4 separate regions of the Homo sapiens genome follow, and all the other regions are reported to be linked to region 4. The links are microRNA targets in miRTarBase. Many come from high-throughput screens and were not tested one by one. Region 4 holds a microRNA gene; each other region holds the end of a gene's coding sequence.
The links. Region 4 holds the annotated microRNA hsa-let-7c-5p (UGAGGUAGUAGGUUGUAUGGUU, at 2,801-2,822, shown strand). A microRNA usually pairs through its seed, bases 2 to 8, with sites in the 3' UTR of a target mRNA and lowers its output. Matches are read on the target gene's strand: a 7mer-m8 pairs with bases 2 to 8, a 7mer-A1 pairs with bases 2 to 7 and ends in A, and an 8mer does both.

Region 1 (4,266 bases), not on the chromosome of region 4:
CAGGGGAGGCGGTGGTCTGAGCCCCCTCCCCTTTGCTCTGTCTCATTTCCAAGAAGGTGGTGGCGCCGAAAAGGCGGGAGAGATAAGCGGGAACAGAGCGACAGGGAACAGGGTTGTGTCACCCTCAGCCGGCAGAGGTGTGTTCAGGGGGTGGGGCAGACGGGGTCACAGACACACACTGCTCACCAGCCATCTGGGGAGCCCTTTCCCCATCACGATGTCATTCTGCTGATCGGGAAAAAAGTTCCCCCTTTTGCTTCAGCGGTTAAGCAGTTTGATGAGCAGAATCAAGGTTCCGCTCTCCTCCACTCACTTCCCCATCGCCTACATGCACACGGGGCATGGCCAGCAGCCGCCAGGCTCCTCAGGAGTGTCTGGCATGTTGGGGGAAGCATCCATTGCTTTAAGCTCTCACCACACGTGCATAGGTTCTGGCAGGGAACACTAGATAGCCCTGAGCAGGGCAAGCATCAGCGTGTGCCCGATCCGCACGTGGTGTTTTCCCAGTGTCAGACCCTTGAGATGTGGCTCTGGTAACTGGAAAATGTTTGAGCAAACTTTTGGCCATAAATGACAGCAGTAATATGGCCCAGCACAGTGGCTTATGCCTGTAATCCCAGCAATTTGGGAGGCCAAGGCAGGAGGGTCGCTTGAGCCCAGAAGTTCAAGACTAGCCTGGGCAACATAGGGAGACCCCATCTCTACAAAAAAAATTTTAAACAAATTTAGCCAGGCGTGGTGGCACACATCTGTAGTCCCAGCTACTTGGGAGGCTGAGGCAGATCGCTTAAGCCCAGGAGGCTGAGGTTGCAGTGAGCTATGATTGTGTGACTGCACTCCAGCCTGGGTGACAGAGTGAGACCCTGTCTATAAAACATAAAATAGCAGTAATAGTAATAGCTAACATCTACAGTCCGATGAGTACATTTTATACGATGGCACATATGTTGACTCACTTCTGCACCAACTCAGCCTGTGCTGCCTGTTCTCCCAGCAGCACTTACTGCCCCACCTTCAGCTCTGCTCTGTATTCAGGGGCTGCCTTCTCAGTCACCCAACCCCAGAGGCCTGGGCTCCCCAGACCCTGCTCCCTTTTAGGAACCTCCTCCCCGTCGGACACTCATTTCCTTCACTTTACAGAAAAGGCACTGAAGGCAGAGATCAGGGCATGGCCCAAGCTTGCTCAGCCAGAGGCAGAGCTGAGATTCTAGCCTGGACAGCCTGACTCCAGGGCTTTTGCTCTTACCCACCAGGTTTCCCCATCTCCCCTAAAACACAGCAGGGCACAGCGGTATGCTAGACCTGGCTCAACATAGCAGACCATGCACATCTCGAAACTCTGCATTCAGTGGCATCATGCTGGTATCCTGAAATCAGCAGCAGTGGGAGTCTTGACACCCAGAAATTGGCAAGCACTACAAGCCAGGGATGTTTTTGGGGAGCCGGTTCCTTAGGACACCACTAGCTGGGGGATGAACCCAGGCTGCCTGACTGCAGTGCCTTCATTCCTTTCCACTACCAGGCCCAGCTCAGGGTGCACACGGCCCAGGGGATCAACAAACCTTGGTTCCAGATGGGCCCTTGCACATTTTGCCTCTTTGCCTTTTTCATTCCAGGGCCATCCAGTGTCAGCCAAGTCACCAGAGCCCGGGGATGTTGTTGTCGAGGAATGAACACTTCTTCCTGGTTGCTGAACCACTTTCAAGGCCCACTCAAGCACAGAAATGCACAGGCCCTGCCATCTGCCTCCTCATCCACACCACGTGGGAGGCTCCTCTTGTCACAGCCTGGGTAACAAAGCGAGACCCCATCTATACAAAAACTTGGCTGTGGTGCTACGCACCTGTAGTTGGTCAAGGCTGCAGTGAGCCGTGATTGTGTGCCACTGCACCCCAGCCTGGGTGAGAGTGAAACCCTGTCTCTAAAAACTAAATGAATAAAGATGGCCTCAGATGGGAATAGCTAGGAAAAGGAGACAGGGCTCTTGTGGGAAGAGACGAGTGCAGGGAGTGGGGGAATTGGGGAGGAAAGGCAGATGGAGCTCCACAAGGTGAGCAGAGTGGCAAGCCCAGCTCCTGGGAGTTGAAGGGTGCTGCAGGCTGAAGCAGGGCCCAGTGAATAGGGGTGTGCTCACCTGGGGAGACACAGGAGCAGCCCCCAGCCCTACCAGGCATCGCTGCATCTCAGCTGAGGACAGGTTTCATCATCAGCAGGGGCAGGGGTCACAGCACAGGCGCCAGAGCCTTGGTGCAAGGCGACAGGCTGACGGGCCAAGCTTGGCGCCCTGGCCATCTGCCCTCCCTGGGGGTGAGGGGCTCAAGGCCAGGCCCCACTATTGGCTGGTGCAGAGGGGAGGGCTTTGGCCCAGCAGGGCAGGGCCAGGGGCTGGTTGTGTTTTCAGGAACTGTTGACACGGAGACCCCTGCCTCTCCTCCAACATGGGACATGTCCTTGACCCCAGCTCCCCACACCCTCATGCACGTCTAGGGCCTCAAAGGGGACATTCATTCCTTAATTCCTCCATCCATCCAACCAACCACTGGGTAATGGGTGGTGCAGCTGGCAGGGACCATGCACAGCCATGTGCACAACAGCAGAACCATGCCTCGTGGAGCTCTGCAGACCCCAGGCCCCCTCCCCACTCCTGAGATGGACAAACACACAAGCAGACAAGGCGGGGGCCACATGGGGCCAGTTTATTGCAGTTAAATACCTCTCTCTCTATTTTTTTTTTGTCAATTTTTCCATAAAGAAAATTAAAACACACACACACACCCCCAAAGGGGAGCAGGGACCCAGAAACAAGAGGTGGGGTGGGACGTGGCCTCCCTGCATAGGTCCAGGCCCCGGGTGGCCCCCCAAAGGCTCCCCTCCTTCCCATCAGCACCCTGTCTCAGTACCTCCAGAGAGCAGGAGGCAGCGGGACGTGGCAGGGCCTCTGTCCCCTCCCTCTTGCCTCCAGGTGAGACCACTAGAAGTGCCGGGGCTTAGTGAGGGCCGGGAGAAGGGCGACAGACAGACGGATGGGCAGGGAGGATACCGTTTCCAAGTGGAGGAGGGCGGTGGGCACTGTATCCACAGAAATGCATTATTTCTCCCCGTTTTTTGTTAAAAATCTACTATAAAAAAACGCAGCTGGGGGAGGGGCATGTGTCCCTCTCTGTGCTAAGGGCTGGGGAAGGGGGCAGCAGAGGCCGGCGTGGGCGGCGGCGGCTGCGTGGTGGTGGCGGGCGTCACTGCCGGGTGCCCTCGCCCACCATCTCCAGGTTGTGCTGCTGCAGCTGGGCTCGAAGCAGGGCGTTCTCATTCTTCAGCTCCTCGATCTGGCGGACACGACGGAGGTCAAGGGAGCTGAGGGCCAGCGCCTTGCATCTGGGGCTCCTGGGCCCTGACCCGCTCCAGGCCCCGCACCCACCTGCTGCCTCAGGAGCTCGTTGTCCATCTGCAGCCGCTCGGCCTCTTTGAAGGTCTCCTGCATGCGCTGGTTGGTCTGGCGCAACTCCCGGATGTAATCGCAGGCCTTGGACAGGATCCCTCCTTTACTCTGGGGGGCGAGGGGACCAGGAGCCTTAGGGCAGGCACCGCCCACCGGCCTCCACCCCAGGGATGACTCCCGAGCCCCATGGCTGTTGGACTTTCTGCATGCAAGGGTCGGGGGCCGGGACCACCGCAGACACTGAGGGTCCGGGGTGCTCACCGCTCCCGTCTTGCTGTTGTCTGCGTTACAGTCTGGAATGATTTTCGAAAGCTGGACGATCCAGTTGTTGATCTTGTCCCTCCGCCTCCGCTCCACTGCGGAAAACAGAGTCACAGCCACGGCTTCGCTGACGGATCATGCCTGAGCGGCCGTCCTCACAGGGCAGAGGCTCAGCCCAAGGACACCCAGGAACAGTGCAGGCCCCACCGAGACCACAGCCCTGGGAAGTGAGGGGCCGCACCCTGAGCCCAGCCGGCCCCCACCCCAGCTTCTCAAGAGGAACAAAGAAACGTGGGCCCTCCAGTGCCACACATGCTTTTAGGACGGGCATCAAAGGCCAGGCACTTGGAGATCATTTTGCAGGCCTGCCCCACCATACTTGTACAAATTTTAATCGACAGTTAAAAATAAGGAAATTTCTCATGGTAATTGGCATCACTGGCTTCTTTTGAGAAATGGAGCTCTGGTCACAGTGGGCACATACTGGAAGGCAGGGATGGACAGAGCCACTCTTCGCAGGACCAGTGCCCCTTTTTGGCTCCTGCGGCCCCTGCACTGCATTCTCCAGT
Region 2 (4,266 bases), not on the chromosome of region 4:
CGAGGTCAGGAGATCGATACCATCCTAGCCAACATGGTGAAACCTCGTCTCTACTAAAAATACAAAAATTAGCTGGGTGTGGTGGCGCATGCCTGTAATCCCAGCTACTCAGGAGGCTGAGGCAGAATTGCTTGAACCAGGGAGTTGGAGTTTTCAGTGAGCCAAGATTGCACCACTGCATTCCAGCCAGGCAACAGAGCGAGACTCCATCTCAAAAAACAAAACAAAACAAAAAAACAAACCAAGACTAAATGGAGCATTTAGTGAATCCTTTAAAGAGACCTCATGGGGATCTTAGCTGTCCCAGGCTGCCCACACAATGAGGCCTATGACTGGGGGCTGCTGCCACCATTAAGGGTCCCAGAGCTGTCCAGGGCCTGTCTCCACCTTCAAGAGTCATCCTGCCCTGCTTCACAATGCTCCCCTCTCCTTCCTTCCTTGCCCCTGGTACAGGTGGTCAGCCAGGGTCCCCAGCACGTCTGACTGGGTCACTAGCCAGGGTGTGACGCAGGTGGGAGAGCCCACCGAGGCATAAGTGGGAGCCTCTACCCTAACCCCTGCTGGGTCCATGGAGCTATCTATTCATAGCAGCAGGACCACCTTTTTTTTTTCGAGATGGAGTTTCACTCTTGTTGCCCAGGCTGGAGTGCAATGGCGCCATCTCGGCTCACTGCAACCTCCGCCTCCCGGGTTCAAGTGATTCTTCTGTCTCAGCCTCCCGAGTAGCTGGGATTACAGGCATGTGCCACCACGCCCAGCTTATTTCATATTTTTAGTAGATACGGGGTTTCTCCATGTTGGTCAGGCTGGTCTCAAACTCCCGACCTCAGGTGATCTACCCGCCTCGGCCTCCCAAAGTGCTGGGATTACAGGCGTAAGCCACTGTGCCCAGCCTCAGGTGTTCTTTTAGCACTGTACCTTTACACTTGGTTCCCTCTGCTTGGTGTATTTTCTCTACTTTCCCTTGTCTTAAAAGATCCAGCTCATCAACCTCTTCCCTATGCTCCTAATGTTACCCTTACAAAGGATGCCTTGTGTTGGTATGGCAAGCCCTCAGCACATGGCAGCTGAATGAAAGGCTGACCCAGAGGAGGTCAGGTTTACTCACCTTGTCCCACACGACCAGTGACTGAGGATGACAGGGACACAGGCCTCAGGAGACCCTGGGAACTGTAGTGAGCAGTAGGTGGGGCTGGAGGACCCTTGGCTGATAGGAGAGTTCCCTGTGCCCCACATAAGCGATTTGGGGATAAATTCTTTCAATGAAGTAGGAAGGACATGGAGGTAGAAGGAAGGAAGCCTAGGCTACGGCAGTCACCTCCTTTATAGAGAACTCTTAAGCATCAGTCTCCTCTGGGGTAGGAGGGAGCCTGGCATTTTGCACTTGTTTGGGTTGTTGGGGAGGTTGGCTGGGAGGGGAAGTCCTCATGCTTTAGCACTGGAAAAGGCAGAAGGAGCTGAACTGGGGATTCAGTTCTGCAGTCACCGTCCAACCTGTAGCCTTCTGCTAGACCCCCACTGCCCATCTCCCTTGGGACCTACAGACACCCCACATCACAGGATTCAAGTTTGGGTTGTCCTGACCAAAATTTCCTTCCCAGCCCCCAGTAAGTACAACCTCCTGGCAGTTTAGGGTGAAAGGCAGCCCAATGACAACTGGCTTGGCTGGGCGCTACTAGGTTCTTTTCTCTTCAGCTCTCAACATAGGGAAAAAGGGAAATATGTGCCAGGGCCCAAGGGCCCAGAATGTTGCCCAAGACAATCTTCCTTGAGTTTTTGTGGGCGTGGTGTTATTTCTGCAGAGCTCAGAGGAAGTCAAATTCTTCACTTTCTGCTCAAAGCCACAGGCTCTCCAGAATTTTAACACAAGTAAGAAGAAAGAAACTCTCAACCATACAAGGGGTATATCAAGACATCATTAAAGTGGCTGGGTGCAGTGGGTCACGCCTGTAATCCCTGCACTTTGGGAGGCTGAAAGTGGGTCACGCCTGTAATCCCTGCATTTTGGGAGGCTGAAGCGGGTGGATCACCAAGTCAAGAGATCAAGACCATCCTGGCCAACATGGTGAAACCCCATCTCTACTAAAAATACAAAAATTAGCTGGGTGTGGTGGCACATGTCTGTAGTCACAGCCACCCGGGAGGCTGAGGCAGGAGAATCGCTTGAACCAGAGAGTTGGAGGTTGCAGAGCCAAGATCGCGCCACTGCACTCCAGCCTGGTGACAGGAGCGAGACTCGGTCACAAGAAAAAAAAAAAAAAACATCATTAAAGTAGCCATGGCATTTTGAGGCACCTCAAATAAAGAGAGTCCTGGGTGGATTTAAGCGAACAGTTTGTTATAATGAACCAGAAATACAAGATTCCACTGAAACTGAACAGTTGACAGAATATGGTTGAACTTAAACCTTCAAGGGAAACAAGGGCAAAACAAAGCTAATGAGTGGAAAAGTCCAAGATTAGTTTGGGATAAACATGAGGATATAATTGCATTTTAGCATGGCTATCTTCTGACCTCTTCCAGCAGTTCGTCTGCCATCATTCTCCCTTCTGACACACCTACCAAATCAAATGGCTTCTGATCCTCTATATTGCAGTATAAACCAACCCTATAGTACCCCTCTGGTCATGATACAAACCCAGAAGGAAAGTCTGTAAATCTCATACAAAGGTAGAAAGTGCAATTCAACCCAACACGCTGGTTATGGTATATGTGCTGTCAATGTACATGGTAGCAACTTGAATCAAACCAGAGCTGCTACCACATGTAAGCAACCTCTTATGCTGCCCTGTAGTGATGTCAATGTTCTCAGTTTACTAAATTATCAATGTGGAAGAACGCATTTTTGAGCTCCAGACCTTCTAAACATTTTAAACAGGCTATCGAAGAGGATGTAACAGAACCCTATTTCAGAAACCTAAGGATCAGGGAGGAAGGAACACTGACCGGTTTTTCTGGGATGTTTCTGTGGGGGCAACAGGGATGAACAAAAGAAATGTTAGCATGTCAGAGCATATGACAAGTGAGGGGAGACAGAGGTAGGAAGAGGGTGTTCTAGCCACAAGGCTAATGCATTTGTGTTCAAAGAGAAGTCTGGGCAAAGGAGGGGAAACCCCCCCTCCCCCCTAAAAAAACAAAAACAAAAAACCAAATCAAAGGACAAAAGGGTTTCATACAACACAGTATCAAAAAGTAAAAGGAACACACTAAATGCACAAGCTGGTGGCAAGTAAGTCCACAGCCTATTGTGATAGGTCCATCCAGCATCAATCAGATTTCTTCTCATCTGTTATCTCAAGGTTATTTACAGATGTGTTGACTAACAAGAGTCTCTCATGGGAGGATGGGCAGGCTTCAATCATTGGTTTCGGGATCTGTCTGCGCCATGTAGGCATCCAACTCAGCATCCAGGTGTCCTTTTGTTTTCGACATATATGCATCCAATTGGTTGTCCAGCTGCTCCTTGGTCAATACAGGGCGAGCAAGGGCACCTCTCCCTCGTCCACGGCCTCGGCCTCGGCCTCCAAAGCCCCCTCTTCCCCGACCTATCATACCCCGACCTGGCCCAAAGGGGAAAAAAAAAAAAAAAGAGACAGTTACAAGTAAGTTTAATAGGTGCTGTAGTAAATGCCCCTTAGAGCAGTGGGGCCTAGCTGAGAAAAGCTGAAGGGCAGGGCAAAGAGGAGAAATCTGGAAAAAAAGGAAACACAATGGGTAGAAAGCAACACATGGAAAGCACACATAATGAATCCTCTATCACATGATCATCTCTAAATGCTATTTTAACAAATTTTATTCTATCAATAAAGGAAAATAATTAACTGGCAACTATAATTTTAAAAAACCTTAATCAATCCTAAGATAAAATTACCTAACATTTGAGATTCACTAAGTTCATAATTAAAATACATGACAGATAACCCCATTTGGTAAGATAGGGAGGTGGTAACAAGAGCACAGAGCATCAGGGGTGTGAAGACAAGACAGTTTTCAAATTAAGTTTATTGGAGACCCTTCTGGAAAGTCATCTCACCTGTCCTTAAACTTATCAAGTCTAATGAGCTAGCTGACCTCATGTGTCAGGAGACTGAGTTTTTCTGACACAGGAACAATGTAGGGGAGATTTGAAAAAATATTTTGAGTTGTCCTAGCTATTTCTACCTTTAATTCTAGTTACCTTATGACAACTGACAATTGTGGTTATCTGAGAAGCAGTGTGAATTCAGTTAACAAAACAAACTCAGCTTTTTGAAAAGCTATTTTAGT
Region 3 (4,266 bases), not on the chromosome of region 4:
GGAAGTCAACAATTACATGCCACTCTCCTCCATAGAACTGGGTCCTCAGCCTTGGCGGCACTTCCAATCACCTGGAAAACTTAAAAAAAAAAAAAAAATCAATGTTTGAGTTGCACCTGGAGAATTCTGGTTTAATTGGAATGGGGTAGAGCCTGGAGATAATCAGTGTTTTCGAACGGCTCCCCAGGTCACTCAGAGGTACTGTTTGCCAGAAGAAACACAGCCTTAGGTATTTATAAATTATATTAGCACACTGAATGCTCTGAGAAGTCCTTCAATCAAGAAATCTGTAAAGCTCTTTTAACCCTGAGTTTCTCAAATGTATTTGCCTCTTTACCCCTGCTTCTTTTTCCCCTAGTACTTTTATTAACCTATTAAACCATTCTGAAGTGCAATATTTTATAGAATATTACTTAGAAAATCTACCGGGGGTTGAGGGGGTGAAGAAAACAGGACAGAAGTTTTTTGGACTACCTGTCAGTTTCAGCTTCCTTATCTATAAAATGAGGGTAAAAAGTAGTACACAGAAATAGTGTGAGAATTCAACGAGGTAATGCATTTAACCACCTAGAACAGAGTTAAGTATTCCCTGAGTAGTAGAATGATGATGAGTTGGCACCATTACTAGGCTCCCTGGGCACCCAAAGGGGTCTGGATGTTAGGATGTTAGCCCAGTGTGTCCAACCTTTGTGATACTCCTGGCACTTCTCTTGCCCCAGTCACTCAGCAAGGTGATACTCTGCCTCCACCAGCCCAAGGAGGCTGACTTGCCTGTCCACTAGAGTGACCACTGCTAACTCTTCTTCTCCCCCCTTGTTCCCAGGAAAGATGGTGAATGTGCCCCTGGAGCAGCTGCCCCTCCTCTTTAAGGTGGTGCTGCATTCCTGCAAGACCAGTGTGGGCAAGGAATGACCTGTTCCAGGCGCCCTCCTCAGGCCAACCACAGCGTCTTGGGTGGGCAGGACAGGCTCTGGAGGGAAAAGCCAGAGAGACCAAGATGGAGGCTGTGGAGCAGCATTTCCCGTTGCCTCCATAGCAAGAAGAGTTTTTGTTTGTTTGTCTGTTTTTTTAACCTCATTTTTCTATATATTTATTTCACGACAGAGTTGAATGTATGGCCTTCAACATGATGCACATGCTTTTGTGTGAATGCAGCCAATGCATTTTCTTACAGTTTACAGAATGTGAAGATGTTTAATGTTACAGTGTTGTCATTGTTTAGAAATAGTTCTTTTGTATTTTGAGGGAGAGGGTGGGATGGGGCTAAGATGACTATTTCCATAATGTTGACAAAGATGACTACCTCAATGGAAATGGGGGGTGTGGCCATCCCTACTTTTTCCACATTTTCTCAGCAGACTCATACATTTGTCTGTCAGAGAGCAAATTGCCTTTTTTAGCCACAGAATTGCCAGATAAAACGGCACACTGTAAGGGGGCAAAGTGTTGTTAGGAGATTCACTAAGCAAGGTTGGTGAGACGGCAACAGGGTAGGAGGTGAGGATTGAGCCACGTCCTTTCCTTGGAAAGCGTGAAAATTAAGAGAGTAGGGCACAGTGACCATATTTAAGGCAGGTGTCCTTCCACCCAACAAGTCCTAAGGGCAGAAGAATTTCTGTTCTCACACCTTGCTGCCCCCCTTACCCCTGCACCACCATCATTGTCTACCACTGCGAACTTTCCATCTAGGCAAAGTCCTGGCAATCACTTGATCCACAGGACTCGCCTCCCAGCTCCCTCGGGGCCCCCAGCTACCTAGTTTCCTTACCTGGATCTCCTGAGGCCCACCTTCCTCCTTCCCACTCCCTTACACATTTGACTTCCTATTGGCCCTTTGAAAAACCAGCTGAGCAGAATGCCATGTTCTGAAGCCTGGTGCCCACTACTGATTTATTCTCCTTTCACCTTGTTTTCTTCAAAGGGTAGTAGGGCAAGGCCAGACTGCAAAAAGAATAGACACTCCCCTTTTGAAATCTGTTCCTCTCCCCTCCCCTTCCTACCGCACCCTCAGGTCTAAATCCGAAAACTTCAGGCTTTTTTAAACAATGAGAAGGACCATTCACCTGTCTGCTGACCAGAAATGTTGCCCCTAAGTTCTTCTCCAAGTTCTCCTTTTCTCTCCAGAGTGAGACCAGTTTTCCTCAGGGACCCAGGACACAAAGCCCAAGGCCCAGAGTGGCTCAGCTGCCCCTTACTTCAGCAGTGGACTGGCCAGCCAAGGCCTGGAGGGCTGGAGCCAGAAGCACCTGGAAGGGAAGGGGGGCTTTAAACTACCTCAGGTTCCTAATGGCCCGGCTGCTACCTCTGCAGACATGGCCTGGACTCCTTGACCTCTCACTACCTGCCCCACCTTATCCCAGGACGTGTTCCTTACCCTCTTGACTTTGGCCAGCGCTACACCAGGTCTGTCTTTGAACTCTTTCAGGTGCTTGTCCTGCCTACACCCAGGTATCTTTCACAGCCAGTGTGGCAAGCAGACCACTTAGTTGGCTGCATGCCTGGGTAGGTTGGAAGGGCCCACGGCACCTTCTTCTGCCTATTTAGTCAAAGGCTGTTTGCTGTCTCCTCAACTCAACCTAGTAAAGCTACCCAGGAGGGCACCACGTCGTGTGCATACTGGGTAGTCCATGTCTGATTGTAATTGTTTCTTTCTGGTGAAATGTTACGGGTACCAGCAGAGTGATGATTTTGGCCCTTGATGGATCTAAAACTCGGAACATTACTCCTCAATGCCGTTTCCCCAGTTGCTCTGAGAAGGAAGAGACATGTTCCTCAGGAAAAGCTCCAGCTAGCATGTTTTTCACGTCAGTGGGAAGATTCTTGTGTGTTCGTGTGTATCTGTTTATTTCTAAGTTCACGATACTTGTTCCCCTGAATTTTATTTAACCAACTAGATCACATTCTTTGGCCACAGGTCAGACTCTGAGCTGCTTTCCTCCAGATCGGGAAGGAGACACATATCACAGATGCCTTCTCTAAGACAGCTCCTGTGTACAGCATCGTTCTTTGCTGAGGCCTCTATCTGTCCAATTATTATTTTTGAAATTGCTTTTCAAATTAAACATTTTACCCGTTGTGTTGGGTGTCAAAAGAAATTGCTCTCTGATGAGGCAAGAACATGTCTCTCCAACAACGTAGTATTGAACAGAGCAAGTTGTTAATTTGTGGAGTAGGGGAAAGGTTCTGCAAGTTGCCATTGTACAAATCCAGTTTTACAAATGTTTGCAGCAGATTCCACAGAACAAAGAGCCCATTCATTGCCGAGAGCCCTGCAGAATCTCAGAGCAAAGTGGCTGTGTGTTCCGAGCCGGAGCCTGACCTGTGGACCGTCTTTAATGTCTTCTGCACCAGTCCTTTTATGACGTGGGCTTTTTTTAAACAGGGTAAAGTGAATGTGTTGCATTGCAAACTCAGGTATTATGAGGAGAAGGTAGGAGTGTAGCTAGCAGCGTGGAGACATTAGGTCAGCCACTAGATGTATTTGTGAATTTGGTTTGAAGGACACGGAGAAAGGTTGGAGGGGAGGTTTGGTGTGTTTGTTTTTTGCTTTCTTCCCCATAATGTTTGGTTAACAGGTAGCCTTTTTGCGAGTGGAAGGAGAGAAAAGTTGTGCATGTTTTCTCTAATTTCTCTTTCTGCCCTCTCTCTGATCCCCAACCACCAAAAGCACTCACTTTGAGTGAGGATTTTTTTTTTTTTTTTTTTTTTTTTTTTTGAGGCGGAGTCTCGCTCTGTCGCTCAGGCTGGAGTGCAGTGGTGCGATCTTGGCTCACTGCAAGCTCCGCCTCCCGGGTTCATGCCATTCTCCTGCCTCAGCCTCCTGAGTAGCTGGGACTACAGGCGCCCGCCACCACACCCGGCTAACTTTTTTTGTATTTTTAGTAGAAACATTGTTTCACCACGTTAGCCAGGATGGTCTCCATCTCCTGACCTCGTGATCCGCCTGCCTCGGCCTCCCAAAGTGCTGGGATTACAGGCGTGAGCCACTGCACCCAGCCGAGTGAGAATTTTTATGCCATAAAAATACGACTCTGAAAGCTACATGGAAAAGGAGAATCCCACCTCCTTGCACTACATTGAAACATGCAAGCCTTTCCCTCCCTCTCCTTTTTGATGTTTTCTTGTCCCAAGACAAAAGTTTGGCATCTTGGAACTTATTCATGCTCTCTGGCTGCCTTTGTAGACTTTTGGAGTCCTTTGCAAGGTTTGGTGGTCTCGTCGTTAATCTGGAGAAATTCCCCAGAATCTGTCTCAAAGCGCTCAACC
Region 4 (4,600 bases):
AATCCAAATCTCTTTTCAGCTTTCGCTACTTCATTGTGCAAAACCTAGTCGCTTCTTTAACAGCCATCGTCCTTTCACTTTCAAAACTGTTACTGTGAAAACAACACGAACCAAAATGAACGCATAAATGCAAACTATGAAACCACTTTATATGTCATATGAGTAGCCTGGGTGGGGCCCTGTGAGTCTTCCAAGGCTTTAAAAAAAAAATACTTTAAAAGGTTTTGCCCATTTTGATATCGTGTTTTCTTCTCGATCGTCTACCCTCATTCCCACGATCCACTCAGATGCTCCTCCTAGACAGCAGTTGTCTGATATTTCTCCTTTTGTGGTTGTTTTAGGGAAAAACTTAAAATGGATATGAAAAGTGAAGAAAGTGATCATAGGAGAAAACCATTTCAGGTAAAAATAAAAAACAAAGAGCAAATAAGATTTACTGTTTTTAAAGAAAAACAACATTCTTTTGACTGTGTTTTGTTATAAGAATTAATTTCATATTCTTTATGAGTGTAACTGTTGAAATTTTATTGATGGTTTTCATTTGAAAATGTGTGCTATGACCTACCTTTGTGAAAAATTTCTTGTGGTCAATTGGGCAGTTTGTGTCCCATTGAATATATGTCTGTGTATCCATACGCTTAAGATAGGTGCAATACGGTTTACTAGAAAGCTTTATAGGAAAAGAAAAAAATTATATTTTCTTATTTGTTGTACCATATAAAAGGAAGTGAAATCAGGAGGAGGGGAATAAGGTCATGCTTTTTCATCTTTTTTACATGACCTGATAAGACAATGAAACCAAAACATGCTTTCTTATAGTTATGGTAAAACTAAACCCAATGCTGCCTCTTATTTCACATTTGCATTTATAAATATATGTTGAAATATTTTTACTACAACTGAATGTATGATTGTTGATTATTTACTATAGTTTTTAATAATTATGAGGACAATTTAAGAATAAATAATGGTTTAAAATTATGTAGAACACATGATCTATATAAAGGCTATAAAACGTATTTATTTCAAAATATGCAAAATCACTAAGCAATTAGTATGTAGTATTATTTTACACAATAAAGATATAATTAGGAAATGCTAAGTGATTATAGATGTGAAATGATTAATGATTGTACAACTTATCATTTTGTTGCAGTTGAGTTTACAATCTTAAAAAAACGTGTATGTGGCTGGCTTTATGTTTACTCGTTTGTGTGTTTGCTTGTTGTCTGGTGGTTTAAAACATTTTTTAGTAATATTTTATTTTTGCCCAACCTGTTGACCAGATGAGAGTTGTATGTAGCCATGCATTTTAAGTGTATCTTTTTTGAACAATAAGTTTAAATATATTTTATTTAGGAAAGAAGATATCCTATGTCATGTAATACATCTGGAGTATAAATGTTAGTGTGGAGTATTAGTAATCATGCCATTATCGTGCCATTTAGTTTAGTTTTATATTAACTCATCCAAATATTGTAAATTTTAGCACCATTCCGACTATAGACACAGATGTATATATTTAAGGCTGATAATAACTTCCTGTATTCTCTAGCTAGTGAACAAGATCTTACTGTTTTATGAGAAAGTTATAATGTTACCAATTCCTTGAAACCAGTAACTAAACTAGTTTTATAAAAATTAAAATAAGCACGGTCTAACTCATACACAATTAACTTAATAGTTAATTTGGTTTTAATTATAGGCTCGTAATACTACATTCATGCCTCACAATTATATAATTCATACATGCATGTATGGATTCTTTTTTCTTTTAAAACTCAATTAGAATAGTTTAATTCCAAAATATTTACTATTGAAACAAAAGCAGTTCGTGAAAAATTTTTCAATAAACTACTTTTTAAATTCTCATGCATATAAATTTGTATTTAGTTTTGAATATTTATGAAGGCCTTTAATGGAGAATATGCATCCTTAGAACTCAGCATTTAAAACATTTATACTAAAGGATCAATATTATTTTTGACTCTTAATTGCATCAGATATTTACAACAAATTCTATATTAATAGGGGGCCCATGCAAGATGTTGCCCATTGGCATAAACCCGTAGATCCGATCTTGTGGTGAAGTGGACCGCACAAGCTCGCTTCTATGGGTCTGTGTCAGTGTGGTAATCTGACAAAATGCTATACACAGTGCCGTTCAACAATAGTTCAGTAAAATCCTGTTAAACTCCAGTTGATTATATACTTTTGAAGTCATTATATTTTCCTTTGTTTTTAATGTTTATTTTAATCATTGTCTGTCTTACAAGGCAGGCTTCAATTCTCAACAACTTGGAAGCGTTTATATCACACCCATTCAAGTTCGATTCCATGTACAGTAAATTGCATAAGAAAGTTGAACCTTTATAGCAGGGTTTGGACCAGGATCTGAATAGATTCTGTTCAGAAACTTCAGTGCATACTGTAGTGCTTAGTGTACCTCTTCAACTTCAGTAAGAAAATTAAAGACTACCATTGGATTTATATGTTTTTATTGAGCCTATTTCTCCTGAAAAAATGAGGCTGAATGCAATTGACTTTTACTATTAATTGCGACTAGAACTATGGCAGGTTAGATGGTCAGAAGACATTTTACGTGACCTATGCTGGAAACCCAAGTGTTTAGGTTAGTCCTATGAGAAACAGTTAGCAGCAAAGTTTACTGGTAAAATGTTAGAATATTATATCTATATCCTTGCCAAGCCCTTAGGTGTATGGCTGCCATATTTGGAGGAGCTGACTGAAGATATGATAAGGAGTTTGAAGCAACATTGGAAGCTGTGTGCATCCGGGTTGAGGTAGTAGGTTGTATGGTTTAGAGTTACACCCTGGGAGTTAACTGTACAACCTTCTAGCTTTCCTTGGAGCACACTTGAGCCGTCGAGGAATTCTTCATCACTTTAACCTGATTGAGCCAATTTGTGTGCAAGAAGGTAATGTGTCATGAGTATCTTGGATCATTGATTTGGGCCTTTATTACATTAAAATGATCATTTCAGCCCTATTAGATTATTCCATTTGTATCTGCTTATGAACAATGTCAAAATGGTATTTCTAATGGGTTGTCACTCCATGTTCAAACATTTTAAGAAAATTGTAGGTAGTGACTTAAATTGCATTAATATTAAAGCTTTTTATCATCTATAGATTAACAAAATTCAGACCTTAATTTTCAAATGGATCATTGGTCTATTTATATTGGCTGCTTAGACACTATAATAAAAAATGTCTGCTAGAGTTAATAGCTCCCATAGCACATTATTTGCGTTTTCCTTATGACACATCACTTTCTACCTTATGTTATGGCTATTTATGTGCTTGCTGATTTTTTCCGCACTAGACTGTAAGCCCCTTGAGGGCAAAGTCCATGTTTTATTTTTCACTGTATCCCCTCCAATGCCTTACTCATAATGAGCACTAACTATTTATTGGATTAGTGAATGGAGTGTAAGACCTCACTCTGTGATGAGTTTCTATTGAATATTTGAATGAGTTATGGCAGTGGTCAAACATCTGAGTTTTATTTATTGCTCCTAAAACTGTTTAAATTTAATTCCTGGACTGCTCCGCATCAGTAATACATGTGTCGATTTTTGACTGTGTTGAATGTGTTCATTCATTCTAAACAGATAAGTTAAAATTTAGAAGTACTTTTTATCTAGAATAAAAATAATAGAGTAAATTCATTTTTACTAATTAGTTCATGACAGTTTATGATCCTACACTTAGATAATTCATATTTCTGTTGAATTTAAATACCTTTCTTTCCAGATGAATCGTTTTTCTTTTAGCATCAATTTCAACTAAATATTCTATTTTAAGTCTCATTTAACAATATGATTTTTAAAAATTAGATTTGTGTCTTTTGTGTATTTCCCTCGTCTCCTGCCCTTTATTTTTGTACAGCTATATCTGTTGAATAAACCAGAAGCAACTAAACCAGAAACATGTCAATAAATTAATAATAAATATGTATATAAAGTATAATTTGAGAATGTGAACACATTTTTGTTTAAAGGAAAGGCACTTTATAATATTCTTTGTGTTACAAAGCAAATGGGACTCTTTGGAACCTTAGTTTGCTGTCAACTTTAGCAGCTGTTAGTGGTGTAATTTGTGTAGTGAGGCTATCTTACATAGATCATCTTTCAGACACAGGATTAAGTAGTTGTTGATGTTAGAACTTTAATTTAAGACTCCAAATATGAAACATGGAATTCATTAAAGAGACGTTTAGATGCAAATATATATTAAGGACCTCAAGATACTGGCTATGTGGTGCTGACCTTTCTAGAATGCTCAGGCATCCAAAATATCTTAATACCTAGAACTTGCTAACAATGTAGTGAAGAAGGAATGGCTACCCCCAACACGTAGAACATGTGAGCCTTAGAAAGTGAATACCAGTCACTTCAAGCAAAATAATTTGATTGGTCTACAGTAGTAAAGACTCTTTCTCTCTGTGAAAGAAAAATATTTGCAAGGACTAATCAAGAAGCAATGAATAAGAGGCAGTAGACATAGACCTAAAACAAACAAACAAAAAGACATGAAGAGATGAAAAGGAAAGTGACTCATAGCAAATAGGAACACC

Region 1: the mRNA of USF2 is a reported target of hsa-let-7c-5p. The part of its 3' UTR that is shown has no 7-base or 8-base seed match.
Region 2: the mRNA of CHTOP is a reported target of hsa-let-7c-5p. Seed matches in the 3' UTR shown: 7mer-m8 at 3,036-3,042.
Region 3: miRTarBase lists NR6A1 as a target of hsa-let-7c-5p. Seed matches in the 3' UTR shown: 8mer at 1,300-1,307, 8mer at 2,271-2,278 and 7mer-m8 at 2,299-2,305.

The regions. Positions count from the first base shown.
Region 1 is chr19:35,278,224-35,282,489 of GRCh38, reverse strand. It overlaps USF2 (upstream transcription factor 2, c-fos interacting), which reads right to left. Exons shown (of 10, transcript NM_003367.4): 8 at 3,698-3,792; 9 at 3,416-3,544; 10 at 2,669-3,323. The coding sequence ends at 3,234. Among named protein-coding and RNA genes, the nearest start is that of HAMP, 2.2 kb to the left of the region's middle. RefSeq lists enhancers at 1-100, 1,487-1,536, 1,627-1,706, 2,146-2,290, 1,797-2,296 and 1 more and a cis regulatory region at 2,212-2,225.
Region 2 is chr1:153,644,358-153,648,623 of GRCh38, reverse strand. CHTOP (chromatin target of PRMT1) reads right to left here. Exons shown (of 6, transcript NM_015607.4): 6 at 2,318-3,560. The coding sequence ends at 3,355. Among named protein-coding and RNA genes, the nearest start is that of SNAPIN, 12 kb to the left of the region's middle.
Region 3 is chr9:124,519,351-124,523,616 of GRCh38, reverse strand. It overlaps NR6A1 (nuclear receptor subfamily 6 group A member 1), which reads left to right. Exons shown (of 10, transcript NM_033334.4): 10 at 824-4,266. The coding sequence ends at 912. Among named protein-coding and RNA genes, the nearest start is that of NR5A1, 14 kb to the right of the region's middle.
Region 4 is chr21:16,537,038-16,541,637 of GRCh38, forward strand. MIRLET7C (microRNA let-7c) reads left to right here and starts at 2,791; the gene lies at 2,791-2,874. The region is part of intron 6 of MIR99AHG (mir-99a-let-7c cluster host gene); the gene reads left to right. MIR99A (microRNA 99a) reads left to right here and starts at 2,052; the gene lies at 2,052-2,132.